Linked DNA regions of Homo sapiens. The protein of the gene in region 4 interacts with the protein of the main gene of each other region in a pairwise test. Each region holds a gene or a part of one and is shown on either strand. Other genes may lie near its edges.

Evidence for each region.
Region 1: the proteins of EHMT2 (region 4) and MTA3 interact in binary tests that used the Homo sapiens proteins (3 or more experiments, as listed by UniProt).
Region 2: the proteins of EHMT2 (region 4) and EPDR1 interact in binary tests that used the Homo sapiens proteins (3 or more experiments, as listed by UniProt).
Region 3: the proteins of EHMT2 (region 4) and MTA1 interact in binary tests that used the Homo sapiens proteins (3 or more experiments, as listed by UniProt).

Annotation. Positions count from the first base shown.
Region 1 is NC_000002.12:42,571,286-42,575,863, forward strand, and holds part of MTA3 (metastasis-associated protein MTA3), read left to right. Parts: intron 1-4,578. UniProt on the Homo sapiens protein: Acts as a component of the histone deacetylase NuRD complex which participates in the remodeling of chromatin.
Region 2 is NC_000007.14:37,926,794-37,931,371, reverse strand, and holds part of EPDR1 (mammalian ependymin-related protein 1 isoform 1 precursor), read right to left. Parts: intron 1-4,578. UniProt on the Homo sapiens protein: Binds anionic lipids and gangliosides at acidic pH.
Region 3 is NC_000014.9:105,443,481-105,448,058, reverse strand, and holds part of MTA1 (metastasis-associated protein MTA1), read right to left. Parts: intron 2,642-4,578; coding exon 2,548-2,641; intron 1-2,547. UniProt on the Homo sapiens protein: Transcriptional coregulator which can act as both a transcriptional corepressor and coactivator. Acts as a component of the histone deacetylase NuRD complex which participates in the remodeling of chromatin.
Region 4 is NC_000006.12:31,887,222-31,891,799, reverse strand, and holds part of EHMT2 (histone-lysine N-methyltransferase EHMT2), read left to right. Parts: intron 1-2,197; coding exon 2,198-2,332; intron 2,333-2,457; coding exon 2,458-2,572; intron 2,573-2,729; coding exon 2,730-2,831; intron 2,832-3,052; coding exon 3,053-3,201; intron 3,202-3,293; coding exon 3,294-3,437; intron 3,438-3,523; coding exon 3,524-3,759; intron 3,760-3,838; coding exon 3,839-4,021; intron 4,022-4,140; coding exon 4,141-4,223; intron 4,224-4,578. UniProt on the Homo sapiens protein: Histone methyltransferase that specifically mono- and dimethylates 'Lys-9' of histone H3 (H3K9me1 and H3K9me2, respectively) in euchromatin.

The DNA.
Region 1 (4,578 bases), on a different chromosome or scaffold from region 4:
CTACTCAGGAGGCTGAGGCAGGAGAATCCAGGTGGAGGTTGCAGTGAGCTGAGATCACGCCATTGCACTCTAGCCTGGGTGACAGAGCAAAACACTGTCTCAAAAAAAAAAAAAAAAAAAAAAAAGTTGAGATTTTAGAGAGTTATGCACGATTCTGAATTCCGAATATTCTTTTGCTTTTTTGTTACTGAATATTTAAAAGTGTGCAGATATTTTCAAATTGCTTAGAGCCTCTGAAAGAGCAGTTCACTTATGTAACTCAGACCCTTTTTATGTTTAGAGTCATAATGTGTATTTTTCCCTTTTTAGTGAATTAATATTTTCCTCTTCCAGGTTTAGAAGGAGGAAGCTAGGGAACATAATATTGAAAGGAATTGGCTGGGCGGGTGCGGTGGCTCACGCCTGTAATCCCAGCACTTTGGGAGGTCGAGGCGGGCGGATCACCTGAGGTTGGGAGTTTGAGACCAGCCTGACCAACATGGAGAAACCCCATCTCTACTAAAAATACAAAATTAGCTGAGTGTGTTGGTGCATGCCTGTAATCCCAGCCACTTGGGAGGCTGAGGCAGGAGAATTGCTTGAACCTGGGAGGCATAGGTGGCAGTGAGCCAAGATCACGCCATTGCACTCCAGCCTGGGCAACAAGAGTGAAACTCCGTCTCAAAAAAAAAAAAAAATTGAAGGGAATTTGTAAAATTCTGGACTAGGCTGGCTGGGCACGGTGGCTCACGCCTGTAATCCTAGCACTTTGGGAGGCCAAGGCAGGCGGATCACGGGGTCAGGAGATCGAGACCATCCTGGCTAACATAGTGAAACCCCGTCTCTACTAAAAATACAAAAAAAATTAGCCGGGCATGGTGGTGTGCACCTGTAGTCTCAGCTACTTGGGAGGCTGGGGCAGGAGAATGGGGTGAACCTGGGGGGTGGAGCTTGCAGTGAGCCGAGATCGCGCCACTGCCCTCCAGCCTGGGTGACAGAGTGAGACTGTCTCAAAAAAAAAATTCTGGACTAGGCTAAATTGTCTGTGGTAGCTCACACCTGTAATCCTAACATTTTGGGAAGCTGAGGCCTCAGGATCCTTTGAGTCCAGGAGTTCCAGACTAGCCTGGGTAACATAGGGAAACCCTGCCTCTACCAAAAAAAAATAGCCGGGCATGATGGCACATGCCTGTAGTCCCAGTTACTTGGGAGGCTGAGGAAGATTGCTTGGGCCCAGGAGGTCAAGGCTGCCGTGAGCTGTGATTGCATCACTGCACTCCAGCCTGGGTAACACAGACTGTCTCGAAATTAAAAAAAAAAATTATGGTTTTGGTGTAATAAATATAAAGTAGCTTTGTACCTTTGGCCCAATTAAAATTTTCACATTAAGATTTGTCCGAGATGGTCGTTTATTAGGACAAAAGAAGCCTTATGATTGCAGGAGAAGAAACTTTTGTTTTGTTTTGTTTTTTGTTTTTTGAGATGAAGTTTTCACTCTTGTTGCCCAGACTGGAGTGCAATGGCGCAATCTTGGCTCACTGCAACCTCTTCCTCCCAGGTTCAAGCGATTCTACTGTCTCATCCTCCCAAGTAGCTGGGATTACAGGCATGCGCCACCATGCCTGGCTGTTTTTTGTGTGTTTATTAGAGACAGAGTTTCACCATGTTGGTTGGGCTGGCCTTGAACTCCTGACCTCAGGTGATCCACCCGCCCCAGCCTCCCAAAGTGCTGGGATTACAGGTGTGGGCCACTGCGCCTGGCCAGGATTTATAATGGAGGTACCAGAAAGCAGTCAAGCTGCATGGACCATGGATTTTCTAATGATGTTTTGTTTTCCTCCGATTTTCTAATGATGCTTTGTTTTCCTCCAGACTTCTCTGAGGGTTGTGTGGTTTATGAGACTTCATAGTGTTAAAATCTTTGAGTCTGTCTAGCTAATACCTTTCCCTCAAAATGCCATCTGGTAACTTGTTCAGTTTTGTCTTGAGAAGGCAAGCCTGACCTAGGACATTCTTAGTTTGAAGAGCCTTGAGACCTTGGTTTGTTTTGGGAATATCCCAGGGAATTTGCATTATTTTTATTTTATTCCAGAGACAGGGAGACAGGGTCTCACTCTGTCACCCAGGCTGGAGTTCATTGGTATGATGATAGCTCACTGTAACCTTGAACTCCTGGACTCAAAGCAGTCCTCCTGCCTCAGCTTTCCAAGTAGCTGAGACTACAGGCATGTACCACCATACCTGGCTAATTTTTTGTTGTTGTTGCTATGGATTCTTGCTCTGTTGCCCAGGCTGGAGTACAATGGCATGATCTCCGGTCACTGCAACCTCTGTCTCCTGGGTTCAAGCAATTCTTCTGCCTCAGCCTCCCGAATAGCTGGGATTACAGGCGCCCAACACCATGCCTGGCTAATTTTTGTATTTTTAGTAGAGACAGGGTTTCACCATGTTGGCCAGGCTGGTCTCAAACTCCTGACCTCAGGTGATCCACCCGCCTTGGCCTCCCAAAGTGCTGAGATTACAGGCGTGAGCCACTGCCCCAGCATTTTCTTTCTTTCTTTCTTTCTTTTTTGAGATGGAGTCTCGCTCCGTCGACCAGGCTAGAGTGCAGTGGCGCAATCTCAGCTCACTGCAAGCTCCGCCTCCTGGGTTCACACCATTCTCCTGCCTCAGCCTCCCGAGTAGCTGGGACTACAGGAGCCTGCCACTACGCCTGGCTATTTATTTATTTATTTATTTATTTATTATTTATTAGTAGAGATGGGGTTTCACCGTGTTAGCCAGGATGGTCTCGATCTCCTGACCTTGTGATCCGCCTGCCTCGGCCTCCCAAAGTGCTAGGATTACAGGTGTGAGCCACCGCGCCCGGCTTTTTTTTTTTTTTTCTGAGGCGGAGTTTTGCTGTTCTTGCCCAGGCTGGAGTACAATGGTGCAACCTCCTCTCACCACAACCTCTGCCTCCTGGGTTCAAGCGATTCTCCTGCCTCAGCCTCCTGAGCAGCTGGGATTATAGGCATGCACCACCATGCCCGGCTAATTTTTAGCAGAGATGGGGTTTCTCCATGTTGGTCAGGCTGGTCTCGAACTCCCGACCTCAGGTGATCTACCACCTCGGCCTCCCAAAGTGCTGGGATTACAGGCGTGAGCCACCATGCCCGGCCTCCTTTTCTCAAAATAACTGTGCTACTGCATTTGCCTATGTTAGTTGTCACCCAGGCTGGAGTGCAGTAGCATAGATCCTGGCTCACTGCAACCTCCTCCTCCCAGGTTCAAGTGATTCTCCTCCCTCAGCCTCCCAATTAGCTGGGATTACAGGCACCTGCCACCACACCCAGCTAATTTTTTTGTATTTTTAGTGAAGACAGGGTTTCACCATGTTGGCCAGGCTGGTCATCAAGTGATCCACCCGCCTTGGCCTCCCAAAGTGCTGGGATTACAGGCGTGAACCACTGCACCCCGCCTAATGTTTAAATTTTTTGTAGACGTGGTCTTACTGTGTTGCCCAGGCTGATCTAGAACTCCTGGCCTCAAGCAGTCCCCCATCTTGGTCTCTCAAAGCACTGGGATTACAGGCTGACTGCCTTTGCATTAAAAAAAAATTATTTAGTCTTTGAGACCACCAAGTGAAGAGAATGGCCTCAAGTGTAGATCAGTCCGTGGATGGGAACTGTTGGCATGTGATTCTGATCTTTTATGTTATTGATGTAAGGTATAAGAATTGAGGCAACTCTAAACTATTTACCATATCAGTTTAATTAGAAAGTTAATTACATCGAAATAGAAATCTTGACCTATGAGACCCTATATTCTTTGGCTGTCACTGCCCCTCTCTGACCTCCACTTTCGCTGAAAGCAGGTGGGAGCTCTGCCTTGCTTACTTGGCACAAAGCACAATGGGCTTTTGGCTGTTTCTCCCTGCAACCACCTTAGGAGGACCGTTTATTTGTGTCCGTCCTACCCCTCACCCCTTGCTCTTTTTTCCATATCATTTATCACCTCCAAATATACTTACTGTGTTTATTTTCATTACCTGTCTTCCTAGAGTGTCAGCTGCAGTGATCTTTTCTGTTTTGTCCAGTTATGCATTCTGAGTGCCTTAGAATAGTGGCTGGCACATAGTTAAAGGCATTCACTAAATACTTGTTGAATTAATTAATTTCTGAAATGTCTGATGTTAATGCTTATGTGTACATAGCTTTACTATTTACAAACTGCTTTGATTCATTCATTTTACAAATAAAATTGAGGACCTTCTACCAGCCAGGTACTTTTAGACAGTGAGAATGCAAGGGTGATAAAAAAAAAACAGGTCTAGTGGAGACAGACATCAACCATATAGTCCCACAAGTGAAAGTAAAATTGTAGCTGTGCTAAGTTTAGAAATGTCACAGCATGGTGCTCTGGAAACCTAACCCAGGATTCACGTTTGTTACCCTTTTGAGCCTCACAGAACCTTACACCTTAAGGTAGCTAAATCATGCATTGTTTTCTTGAGGCACATAGTAGCTAAATTATTGGGTTGCACATCTAGGTGAACATAGCTTATTTCACACTCCTTTATCATTTCATGGCCATTCATTTCTGAAATGCCCCCCTCAT
Region 2 (4,578 bases), on a different chromosome or scaffold from region 4:
TGGCTAATTTTTGTATTTTTAGTAGAGATGGGGTTTCACCATGGTGGCCAGGCTGGTCTCAAACTCCTGACCTCAGGTGATCCACCCGCCTCGGCCTCCCAAAGTGCTGGGATTACAAGCGTGAGCCACCGCACCTGGCCTCAGACTTCTCTTTGAGAGCTGTAAATGCCATAAACATATTTAAGCAAAAAGACTATTTTTACCCAAATTGTATACACCAAAAAAAATCATTATTTAAATGGCAATAAGTAGATGTGCTTAGACATTGAAAATCTCTGAAAGTATGCAACCTTAGTGTCTTCTCTGAAAAAAAAAATTGAATAATTTCTCTAGCTGACTAAAACATGAATTGAAATAAAGGTAAATACGAAAATTAGTATAAAATAAATTGCAGTGAACTATGAAAGGAGTAAAATGGCTTGTTTCTCTAAAACAGAAGACCTTGTGACAAAGCTCCTTATAAACTTATGCAAACACACACACTATAAAAATTCCTCTGTGTTTTAACAACTGCAGAAATTGACCTTTTTGAGGCTTGATTCAGCATGATGAAAGAGGACTACAAACCACCAAAACACTTCAAATTCTTTTCAATATACTAAGTGGAACCTAAATAAATACTTGTCCTGTGCAAAAGGAACTGTGTTCTGATGTCCGAGAAGTGGATTCCCAAGCTTCATTTCCTAACTCCTTAAGGAGAGTTGAGACCTCAGAAGGGTGAGATCTCTGGGGTCCAAGGGTAAGCCAGGCCGTGCCTGAAGCTGGGCTAGGATGAGAATTTCTATTCAAAAGGACAGGGTGTGTGACAAGGGACAGGTGGAGGGCTTGACTGTGAGAAGAAGAACTCCCACACCTACAGGAAACACAATCCATGCCAAGATACAGCACCTGATGTGGCATTTCCAATGGATATGAAGTCTGGGGCAGATTCTCTTCCCCCATCCTTCACTCCCAAGAGTGCCTGCTGGTACTCAGATACTCCTCATAAGTTATATGTTACCTATTGCTGACAATGCTGCGTCAGGCAGAGCTGTGCCCTTGGCCCTGCACCACCGGCTTCCCATCTGCCACTGTCTTCCCTGGTGGCTTCTGAGATGCTCTGGAGCAGCGTCTTCCCTGAGAGAGCTGGGGCTGTGACTCTGGTGCCTCTTCCAAGGTGAGCTTTTGGCTGTCACTCATCGGCAGGGCCCACATTCTAGAACTCTACCAGAAGATCTAACTTTAAGCCACAACAAAAGCAGCCTTCTGTGAGCGGGCAGGAGTCATCCAAGGCATGTATATCCTTTTCCTCCAGGAGAAGTTGCCTTCTTTAGGGGAGCCATCATCCCAAGAGTTTCTCCTTTCTTTGGGGGGACTGAGGGTAACTTAGGCACCCTGCTAAGGATCTGATTCCTCTTCAGATGGCCTCCCGACTCAAAAAGGCACTGCTTCTGAGAAACTGTGGGTGCTTTAGAAATAAATCTCAAATGCCCACATTGGGTGAAATTCCCCAAAATTGAAATTGAGGCACAAGAGAGACACTGAAGACAGTGTTTGATGAGAGGGCAGTGGGGGAGTGGCTCATGGGCGAAAGGAGTTTGGGGCATCCACTCTCTGGAGGTGGTGGTGTGCCCTCCACTTCAACCCTACTGGAAAACTTTTCAAAACACTGCAGTGTAATTCGATGTCAAAAATCATTCTTAACAGAAAAGAGGTATAACGTAACATATAAATGAAAAACCATGAAACCATTACATAAATCTATCATTTTATTGTCTAAGAAATTTAATTATAAGGAAAAAAGGAAAGAAAATACATATCTATTATTTAGGTATCCTTCTACAATGAATGTATATTATCAGTTATTCATTTCCCTCATTCACTGATTCAAAAAAAAATAAAAATTAGTCAGGCCCTGCTCTTAGCAGTTAGAAAATGGAGCTTGGGAATCGCCTTCTCCGACATCAGAACACAGCTCTTTTCATATGGGACAAGTATTCGTTTAGGTCCCACATAGTATGTTGAAAAGAATGTAAAGTGTTCTGAGGAGTTAGAGACACAGCAACAACCATACAAAACCCCTGGCCTTACGGAGCCTTATTGTGCATGAGGGAAGGTGGGGGAGATGAAGGAACAAACTTTAACGTTAAACACTCTGCCAGATAGTCATAAGTGCCTTGGATATATTAATATAAAGCAGTGAGGGGGCACTGAGAATGTTGAGCAGAGAAACAGTTCAATTTGGGAGTAAGTCATGCAGCTTCTTAGGAAAAAGTCTTTCTAGGCAGAGGGAATGACAGATTCAAGTGCCAATGGGGTCAGCGTGCTGAGGCCAGGTCCACAATGAGTGAGCTGGTGACAGAGATAAGGTAGGGAAAAGGCTGGGGAGCAGATCCTGAGCCAAGAAGTGGCATGACGTATTTTCAAGAGAACCCCTGGGGTTTCTATGTGGAGAACAGACTAAAGGGAGCAAGGTCCGAAGTGGGGACAACTGTTAGGAGGCTATCATAAACATCCAGCCGAGACATAATAAAAGTTTGGGCCAGAATAACAGTAGAGGTATGGTCAGATTCAGTATATATCAAAATTAGGGTATAGGTAGGAACATAAAGAGATGAGAGCCTGAGCCCTGGGAGAGTCCACTATTAGCAGTCCAGAGAAGAGCAGAAAGAGCAAAAAGGCTTGAGGAGAGGAAATAAGGTGGGAGAAGGAAAACCAGAAGACTAGCATGTTGAAAGCCAAGTGAAGACAGTGCATCAAGATTGGGGAATTAATCTACAATAAGATGAGGACTGATCAAAGATTGGTTGATTAGTAATGTAGAGCTTCTTGCTTTTGACCAGAGTATTTTCAATAGAATGGTGACAAAAGTGATTGGAGGGTGTTCAAGAGAGCATGGGAGTACAAAAATTGTAGTTAGCATGAGATTTGCTTTAAATAGAAGAGGAGAATGAGATTTCAGCTGGTAAGATCAAGAGAAGTTTTTTTTTTTTATTTAAAGATGGGTAAAATAAAAGAAAATGTTAAGGGGGAAAATAGAAATTTTTTACTGGAATTGGTGAAATCTAAGACTATCATATTTATTCCAGGAAAAACAAACCACTAATTGGTGGAATATTTTCAGATCTTTGGGCACTTTGCCCCTGACCACCATCCTCAAGGTCAGAATCAGGAAGAAACAGCTCAAGGTTATTGGAGAAAGTAAAGATGTTTTCAAAGCAGTATAGTGACCACCTCTGGCTTCCATTCGTAAATTTGTCTTACATTCCATCAGCCTCCTTACTCTCCTGGGCTTATCTTCTTTGGATCTTTTTTCCCCAGTGCCTGCTTCTCCCTCCCCATCTCAGCATTAATTGTCTGAAATCCAGGGTCTATAGACACACTGAATTAAGTCCCTTAAATCAAACTTTGTGTGCTTCCAAGAAAATCTGTTTCTTGAAGAAAAACTCAAATATTGCGAAACTCAAGTATTGCAAATCAGTATGGTTTATTCTTTGAGGATCAGGAGGCCACAAGCAGTCAAGACTTCCTCAGCTCACAAAAGAATATGCTATCTCCAGCCATCTGAGACCAAAATGATGGAGTAAAGGTCAAAGGAGAAGTCATGCTCTTAATATTCACAAAGTCGTGATTTCTTAAAATGAAAATCCAATCCATGCAAGACAAGATTCATGATCAAATAGATTTATTGAGCACTTTATATTAGTCTGCCTCCCCCAGTCACACAGAAACACCCTCTGAGGATTTGTAATGATGACATACTGAGAATCCAAAAGCAATACAAACATATGTTAAGAACATAATTTCATCTACTCCTTTCTCTTGAACAATTTAGACTAAAGCCACTAGGTAGGACCAAGGAAGATAGGCTTCTACATGGGCTGGCCTGGAGCGCAGAGCCCATGTGTGAAGGAGACAGCGTAATGATACATGACTGGTTACCTACTGCAATTGAATAGTAAGCCAGTTTTCTCACTGGCTGAGAAGGGAGTAGCAAAAATGAAAGGAAAAAAAAAACTAGAATGAACCATGTAGTGTTGGATTAGAATGAAGGCATCAGTTTAAACACCTGTATGGATTAGAACTGGAGGTTCAGAAATAAATATAGATGTAAATGTGTATATATGTATGAGTGTGTGTGGGGAGGGATGTGTGTATTCAAACTTAACACCCCTTGCTTTGTCCATTGAGAGGACCTGGTAGCAGTGCCACCTGATAGCACTGAGCATGACCAGAGCACAGGTTCTAACTTCCACATATTATTCTCCAGGAAAAGTAACCAGGGCTTCTTGAAAAATGGTTTATCCTAGGACTGGGGCAGGAAAAGTATAGATGATCTTGAAATATCTTGCTGTGCCGGAAAGCAAGGAAGTGCCCAAACACATCAAAAGAACATAGAAACCAATTTGAAGAGGCTTCCACTGGCCAAATCTAGGACATTATGAACAGCAAAGTAAACAACGAGAGCAAATAGAACAAAATTAGAAGGCTTGAGTCCACACTGATACAAATAAAGTATAATTCAGAAGATTAATGAAGAATGGGATATGTACATGGTTTTAAAATATTTCCCTACCAAATCTTACTAATTAAAAAGAA
Region 3 (4,578 bases), on a different chromosome or scaffold from region 4:
GGCTTCTCTGCCACAGGGGCCACAGTGCAGCCTGGCGGGTGTCTACCCTCCACCCTGAGGCCTGCACTGTGGGCTGGACGCCCCAGCAGGGGCTGGGTGGAGGCAGTGACGTGGGAGAGCCAGAGGCCTCCCAGAGTGTCCTCACACCTGTCCCTGGGATCAGCTGGGGGCCTCACCCTGGCTGCCATGAGCTCACAGAGAAGCAGGAGAAACGGAGATTGACACAACCCCGGGGGGTGTGGGCCCTGCAGAATCACCGCAAGGCCCAGCCGCCAGGCAAGAGTGGGGCCGCGCTCTGAGTCCCTGGACCAGCGGCAGACCCATCACCCATGACGCCTGCTCCCTGCAGCTGGGCTCTCAGTTCATAGGAACGCCCTGCAGAGGGGCCGCCACGCAGCTTTCCAGGGAGCACCGTCCAAAGGGGCTGTGCTGTGTACCTGGGGGGGCCAGTGCTCGAGCTGGGACACTGCTCTCCACCCAGTCCTATCAGCCCCAACGAGGCCCTTCTGGAAAACCTGCCCTCTGATACCTCTAATCACGTTATGTCTGGAGTCCCCTTCTGGGGCTCTTCCAGCAAAAGGCCATCCTCTGGGGCGTCTGAGAGCAGAACCTCAGCCAAGGGGGCCACAGTACCCTCAAAAACCACTAAACCACTGATACAGGCTCTCTGGAGCAGGGACACTGTGCCCCCAGGTGCCAGAGGACAGAGACAGGATCCACCCTGGGCCAGCCATAAACATGCCCAACTCAACGGTGGCGCCTGACTCCCCAGGCCACACAGACTGGCAGGGCCACACTGCGGCCGCTCAGCCTGGGCACTGCTTCTCCAGCGGGCCAGCCCGCTCCCCACCACTGCTTCTCCAGCGAGCCAGGCCGCTCCCCACCACTGCTTCTCCAGCGGGCCAGCCCTGCAGAGTCGACATAGGCCAGCCTCCAACACTAAGAACCGCCAGCCGTGCTGCTGACTGGCACCCAGCACCTGCAGGGCCAAGGGCCACACCAAACACCCCTCCAGAATGTGTAGCCTGTGGACCTTCAACATCCCCAGCTCTCCTCCTTGGTGCCTGGAGCCCGCCGAGTGCAGCAGTGGAGTACACAGGCTTTGGGGTCAGAGGTCAAGGATCACCATGCCCCACCTTGAACGCTCCCCTCCTCTGAGCAGAGAGCTAGGAGGTCCAGTTCCTCACAAAGCCAGAGAAAGCCCATGGTCAACTGGCAGCTCCCTTTGGGCCAGCCACAGGCCCCACAGCCCAGTGTCCAGAGTGGACCCAGGCTCGGGGGCCCGGCCCAGCTGCACTGACCCAGGGCAGCTCACGTCCGCATCCACTGGTTGCTGAGGAAAGGTCCCAGCTGTCCGGTGGGCAAGGCAGTGGGGTTAAGGGACACCTTCCTTCCACAAGCGCCTGCCCTGGCCGACTCCCAGCAAAGGCTCAGGAACAAGGCATCGGTGGCAGGATGGTCTGTCCTGTCCCTAAGCCCCTCCCAGAGCAGGGGGAGGTTGCCTGGGCTGACTTCCTGCCCCTCACCCACAGCGCTGGGACGGGGCAGAAGATGCGAGGGTCCTCCCACCCGACCCACCGCAAACCCACAGTCCCTGGACCTCACCCCATTAGGGGTCGTGGGAGGTTACAGGTGGGACCTTGGCCCACCCCAGCGACACGGGTACCCGGGCAGTCACATGCCTCACCTACTGGGAAATGTCACCCTACAGACCACAGCCTCAGCCTGGGCTCAGATCCCACCCCAGGTGATGTGTCAGAGTGGAAGCCAAAAATGCCCCTCATGCCTGCCCCCACCGACACATGAAGGGCCTCAGTGGGGTACCACACTGTGTCTGGTGCAGGTGGGGCCCAGCTCGGCAGGCCCTGTGTCAGTAGCATGTGGAGGGCGTGGGGGTGCCTCTGGCTCCTGGCTCTGAAGTCAACATCCCCCGGCACAGGAGACTCCACCACCTGCGAGCACCTGTTCCCGGGGGAGAAGCTGGGTCCCCAAGGCTGAGGGCATTCCCATGCAGCCAGTGGCTTCCTCCCACACGCTGTGCTGGCCACAGCAGCCCCTCCCAGCCAGGTTACTAAACTTGGGTTTGAATCGTAAAGAATAAGGAGAGGACTGCTTTCCTGAAAACACTACTCAGAATCCCAACAGAAGCCTCTCCGCAAAATTAAAAAGAGAGAGACATTGGCAAGTGCAGGCAGCAGGGTCCCACCAGCCTGGAAAGTCTCCAGAAGTCATCATAGAAGGGAAAAAGAAGCCTCGATCAATGATGCCCACACCCAGCCACACCATGACAAGCTTGCAGAGGATGCCAGTGAGAGACAGACCACTCCGGGGGGCGTGCGAGGACTTCATTCACCCAGCCCCCGAGGAAACGGAGCCAGGACACCCCCGCCCACTGTGGAAGGGAGAAAAAGAGACGCCAGAGTGAGTTGGGCAGAGGGTGGCCCCACGAGGCCAGGATGCCGATGGGCCCTAGGGAAGAAGGACCCCGCCAGCCCTCCCCAGCCGACCCTCCCGCCAGGCGGGCACCCCAGGGAAGGCCGGACTCACTTGCGTGCTTGTCGGCCAGGGCGATGAGGGTGCTGGAGATGTCCCGCCTCCGGTAGAAGCACACCACTTTGGCCTCCACGTTCCCATTGGCCGTCTGTAACAGCAAGGCAGGGGCGTCTGAGAAACGCGACCAAACCCGGGCTGCACAGCTCCCAGGAGGGGCTCCAAGGCCGGACCCTGCCGTCCAGGGACTGCAGGTGTAACCACACCACCCCTCGGGACTCCAGGAGGGCACTTCACAAATGGAGCAAATCCTGCAGCTCTGGACGCCCGTGGCGTCTATCCCAGGGGAGAAGGCGGGCGTGTGCACCCAACCTCAACCTGTGTCTCCATTCTCCCTCCCTTCCAGACCCCAGTGTACCACCTGAGAACAGCAGGGTCCCAAGGAGGAAAAGGCCCCCGCCACACTGGGTAGGACCTCAGTCAGCTCCTGGGAGGCCACGCCCAGCTATCCCAGCCCCTCTGGGGTGACCTGCACAGCAGCCACGGCCCTAGCGGCGGACGCAGCCTGGACCCCCCGCATGGGACCAGCCCTCCCACCTGGCCTGGCTGACAAACGTCTCCAAGTCAAGACGGCTGTAAAACGCCACCAGAGAAGCACGTATGTTTTCTGAACGAGTTTTTATAACATCTTTGCTACTGCAAGAATTGTGCTGTAATTCTAATCACAGTGCAAGTGCCTAATGGAATACTATTTATAACTCTTTTTTTTTTTTTTTTTAAGATGGGGTCTCACTCTGTCGCCCAGGCTGGAGTGCAGTGTTGTGATCTTGGCTCACTGCAACCTCTGCCTCCTGGGTTCAAGTGATTCTCCTGCCTCAGCCTCCCAGGTAGCTGAGATTACAAGCGTGAGCCACCACGACCAGCTAATTTTTGTATTTTCAGTAGAGACAGGGTTTTGCCATGTTGGCCAGGCTGGTCTGGAACCCCTGACCTCAAGCAATCTGCCTGCCTCAGCCCCACAAAGTGCTGGGATTACAGGTGTAAACAGCACCCAGCCTCACCTAACTTTTTAATTTTTTGAGATAGGGTCTCACTCTGTTGCCCAGACTAGAATGCAGCAGTGTGATGTCAGGTCACTGCAGCCTCCATCTCCCAGGACCACAGTCCAATTACACCATGCCTGGCTTTTTTTTTGAGACAGAGTCTTGCTCTGTCGCCCAGGCTGGAGTGCAGTGGTGCAATCTCGGCTCACTGCAAGCTCCGCCTCCTGGGTTCACGCCATTCTCCTGCCTCAGCCTCCCGAGTAGCTGGGACTACAGGCGCCCACCACCACGCCCGGCTAATTTTTTTGTATTTTTTAGTAGAGACTGGGTTTCACCGTGTTAGCCAGGATGGCCTCGATCTCCTGACCTCGTGATCCGCCCGTCTTGGTCTCTCAAAGTGCTGGGGTTACAGGCGTGAGCCACCGCACCCGGCCTTTTTAGATGGAGTCTCACTCTGTCGCCCAGGCTGGAGGGCAGTGGTGCGATCTCAGCTCACTGCAACCTCCACCTCCCGGGTTCAAGCGATTCTCCTGCCTCAGCCTCCTGAGTAGCTGGAACTATAGGCACCCACCACCACACCGGCTCATTTTTGTATTTTTAGTAGAGACGGGGTTTTACCATGTTGGCCAGGATGGTCTCTATCTCCTGACCTCGTGACCCACCCGCCTCAGCCTCCCAAAGTGCTGGGATTACAGGCATGAGCCACCGCACCCAGCCAACCTGGCTAATTTTTAAATTTTTTGTAGAGACGGGGTTTCACCACATTGCTCAGGCTAATCTTGAACTCCTGGACTCCAGCAATCTGCCCGCCTTGGCCTCCCAGAGTGCTAGGATTACAGGAGTAAGCCAAGGCACCTGGCCACTTTTCTTAAAGATAATTTGGTTTAATGTTATAAATGGGTTGGGGGCAGTGGCTCACTCCCAGGAGTTCAAGACCAGCCTGGGCAACATGGTGAAACCTCATCTCTATAAAATGTGTTTTAAAAATTAACCAGATGCAGTGGTGTGCGCCTGTAGTCCCAGCTACTTGGGAGGCTGAGGTGAG
Region 4 (4,578 bases):
GAAAGCACTTTTTTAAAACATACGTTATGCTGTTTATATAAAATTCAAAAGCATTGCATTGTCATTTATTTGCTTATTTCGTTGCTCTTTGTCTGGTTTTATCTTATATGTTTGCCTACACAGTAGAATGTTTAGTCTCTCTGATTTTGCCTTTTATTTAACATTTTATCATGAAAACTTGCAAGCATAATCAAAAGAGTAGAATAGGGAGCCCCCATGTACCCAATACACAGCTCCAGCCATTATCAGTACACAGTCCATCTTGACCCATCTGTACATCTCCCAGCACACACACCTACTAGGTTATTTTAAAGCAAATCCCAGACCTCATATCATTTTACCTAAACATATATCCATATAGATTTGTAAATATAAGGCCTCTTTTTGTCGTTCAACATCATTACACTACTGTTTTCACACCTAAAAAAACTTACCGATTTCTTAATACCATCAAATATCCTGTCAGTCTTCACATTTCCTCAGCTCTCACAAATGGTTTTTGTCAAGATCCAAATGAGGCCCACACCTTGATTTGATTAACATTTGTCTTAGGTCAGCCAGGCACAGTGGCTCACGCCTGTAATCCCAATACTTTGGGAGGCCAAGGCGGGCAGATCACGTGAGGTTGGGAGTTCGAGACCAGCCTGATCAACATGGAGAAACCCCGTCTCTACTGAAAAAAATACAAAATTAGCTGGACGTAGTGGTACGTGCCTGTAATTCCAGCTACTCGGGAGGCTGAGGCAGGAGAATCGCTTGAACCTGGGAGGTGGAGGTTGCAGTGAGCCAAGATCGTACCATTGCACTCCAGCCTCGGCAACAAGAGCGAAACTCCGTCTCAAAAAAAAAAAAATTTTTTTTTGTCTTAGGTCTCTCTCAGTATTTAGGTTTCCCCATCTTCTTTGTGTTTGTTTGTTTGTTTGTTTTTGTTTTTTGAGATGGAGTCTCACACTGTCACCCAGGCTGGAGTGCAGTGGCGTGATCTTGGCTCACTGCAAGCTCCACCTCCTGAGTTCAAGCAATTCTCCTGCCTCAGTCTCCCAAGTAGCTGGGATTACAGGCACCCACCACCATGCCCAGCTAATTTTTTGTATTTTTAGTAGAGGCAGGGTTTCACTATGTTGGCCAGGCTGGTCTCAAACTCCTGATCTCGTGATCTGCCCACCTCGGCCTCCCAAAGCGCTGGGATTACAGGCGTGAGCCACCACACCTGGCCTGATTTCCTCATCTTCTAAAAAAAAATTTTTTGGCCCAGGCGTGGTGGCTCACGCCTGTAATCCCAGCACTTTGGGAGGCAGGTGGATCACCTGAGGTCAGGAGTTTGAGACCAGCCTAGCCAACATGGTGAAAACACATCTCTAATAAAAATACGAAAATTAGCTGGGTGTGGTGGCGGGTGCCTATAATCCCAGCTACTCAGGAGGCTGAGGCAAGAGAATTGCTTGAATCCAGGAGGTGGAGGTTGCAGTGAGCTGAGATCACACCATTGCAATGCAGCCTGGGCAACAAGAGCAAAACTCAATAAATAAATAAGAAAGATTTTTTTTTTTTGCCATTTATTTGTCAAAGAAACCAGCTCAGTTGTCCTACAGAATTTTTCACATTTAGGAGTTGGCTGATTGGGTGGAGATTGACACATCCTCTCTGCCCATATTTCTTGTAAACTGATAGATCTAGAGGCGGAATCAGCTTCAGGTGCCAAGAAGACTTGACAGTGGGTGCAAGTGCTTCTGGCCACATCACATCAGGATGCATGGAACATCTAATCTGGTCATTTTTCTTGTTAGTGATAAGATTGACCAGTGGGTTCAGGTGATGTCAGCCTGAACCTTTCATATAAAGTTTCTCATGAGCTTTGTGTCTAGTGTTTTTAGCAACCATTGGTGGTCTTGCCTGTTTATGAACATCATAAAAGGGGTATCAAAGTATGTTTATCTTCTGGTACTTGCTTTTTGTTTTTTAACTTAATATCACATTACCAAGATCTGTGCACATTGCTGTCTGTAACTTTTTCACTGCTGTGTAATATTCCATGCACCCTCTCTTTATGTGGCCCTTTGTCTCCTCTGCTACCCACACTTATCCCCAGCAGCCATCCGTGGGTAGTGGCGGGGGGCAATGGTGGTGGTGGTTTTCTTTACTCACCTCATTGTCTGAGTCCTGGGGGTTGGATATGTCTGTTCTGCCTCTCTCCCAGTCTGAAGTTGAAGCTCTAACTGAACAACTAAGTGAAGAGGAGGAGGAGGAAGAGGAGGAAGAAGAAGAAGAGGAAGAGGAGGAGGAAGAGGAAGAAGAAGAGGAAGATGAGGAGTCAGGGAATCAGTCAGATAGGGTAAGAGACGGAGGCTGATATCTCCAGAGGAGTGGGAGACTATGGGGCTGGAGGTCTGGTCCTGAAGGTGTTGGGGGGGCCCCTGGGGGTGAGGGTTCCTAACTCCTCCTCCTCCCCCTTCCCAGAGTGGTTCCAGTGGCCGGCGCAAGGCCAAGAAGAAATGGCGAAAAGACAGCCCATGGGTGAAGCCGTCTCGGAAACGGCGCAAGCGGGAGCCTCCGCGGGCCAAGGAGCCACGAGGTGAGGAGGCTCTGCTGCTTTTGGGTGCCCTCCAGCCCCCGCCCGGCCCCCCAGAGTGTGTGCACGCACACACACGCTCTCGCATGTCCACCTGCATGTACCCACGCGTCCAGGCACCTGTGAGCTCGCACTCTCACTCTCTCTGTCTCTGTGTCAGGAGTGAATGGTGTGGGCTCCTCAGGCCCCAGTGAGTACATGGAGGTCCCTCTGGGGTCCCTGGAGCTGCCCAGCGAGGGGACCCTCTCCCCCAACCACGCTGGTAATTGCCAATTGCCGGGACAGGGAGCCACTAGGGGGCGACCTCAGGGCAGGAGGGAAAGGGAAGGAGGGGAACCACGCCAGAGCCGGGGTGTCCATGGCCAGGCTTTAGGGGTTCTGGGGCATGGCGGGGTGGGGTAGGGAGGGAGTGAGAGGACCCGCCAGGGGTCCCAGTAGGTGAGGTGCAGAGCCTCCCTCAGCTCCTCTTTTCCTCCATCCAAGGGGTGTCCAATGACACATCTTCGCTGGAGACAGAGCGAGGGTTTGAGGAGTTGCCCCTGTGCAGCTGCCGCATGGAGGCACCCAAGATTGACCGCATCAGCGAGAGGGCGGGGCACAAGTGCATGGCCACTGAGAGTGTGGACGGAGAGGTGGGGCCGTGGGCTGGTGGGAGAGGTGCCAGGGCGTCCAGTCCCCGGCCCCAGCCTCACGCTCTCTTCTCACCCATCCTCACTGCGCACAGCTGTCAGGCTGCAATGCCGCCATCCTCAAGCGGGAGACCATGAGGCCATCCAGCCGTGTGGCCCTGATGGTGCTCTGTGAGACCCACCGCGCCCGCATGGTCAAACACCACTGCTGCCCGGGCTGCGGCTACTTCTGCACGGCGGTGAGTGACCAGTGGGGCAGACAGGTAGCATGCCCTGTGGCAGAGGGGGCCCCAGTAACCTGACCATGTCGTTTCCCTGCTCCCAGGGCACCTTCCTGGAGTGCCACCCTGACTTCCGTGTGGCCCACCGCTTCCACAAGGCCTGTGTGTCTCAGCTGAATGGGATGGTCTTCTGTCCCCACTGTGGGGAGGATGCTTCTGAAGCTCAAGAGGTGACCATCCCCCGGGGTGACGGGGTGACCCCACCGGCCGGCACTGCAGCTCCTGCACCCCCACCCCTGTCCCAGGATGTCCCCGGGAGAGCAGACACTTCTCAGCCCAGGTACTGGCCTCCCCCTTCTGTACTGTCTGTTCCCTCCCCCACCCCTATTGCTCCTGGACATGAGCTCCTTCTTCCACAGTGCCCGGATGCGAGGGCATGGGGAACCCCGGCGCCCGCCCTGCGATCCCCTGGCTGACACCATTGACAGCTCAGGGCCCTCCCTGACCCTGCCCAATGGGGGCTGCCTTTCAGCCGTGGGGCTGCCACTGGGGCCAGGCCGGGAGGCCCTGGAAAAGGCCCTGGTCATCCAGGAGTCAGAGAGGTGAGTGGGGAGTTGCTCAGGCACAGCAACTGGGGCTGAGGCCAGAGGAGTGGTGTCGAGGCTGATGCTGGAATCTGAGGAGCTCCCCTTCTCTCCCCGCTCCCGTGCTCCCTTGGCAGGCGGAAGAAGCTCCGTTTCCACCCTCGGCAGTTGTACCTGTCCGTGAAGCAGGGCGAGCTGCAGAAGGTGATCCTGATGCTGTGTGAGTGCCACCCATTCCTTCAGCAGACCTTGACCAAGCTTCATGTATATACCAGGCACTGGGTACAGGGCCAGGAGTACAGTCGTGAAGGACACAGTCCTTGCCCTGAAGGACTTAGTGTGGTGGGGAAAAGACACATGTAACCCATAACGATGGGGATGTGGTGACTCATAGGTGCTGGGTCCTGTTCTGAGTGCTTATACCTGTTAGCCTTGGCTTGCACAGAGAGGTTAGGGACCTTGCACAGTGCACAGTGGTACTGAGAAGCAAGGCAGGGTTTGAATTCAGGCAGAGCTGATGCCTTTGACTCCTTATTCTGATAAATGCTGTGGTGGAGGCAAGCTCGGAGAATGCC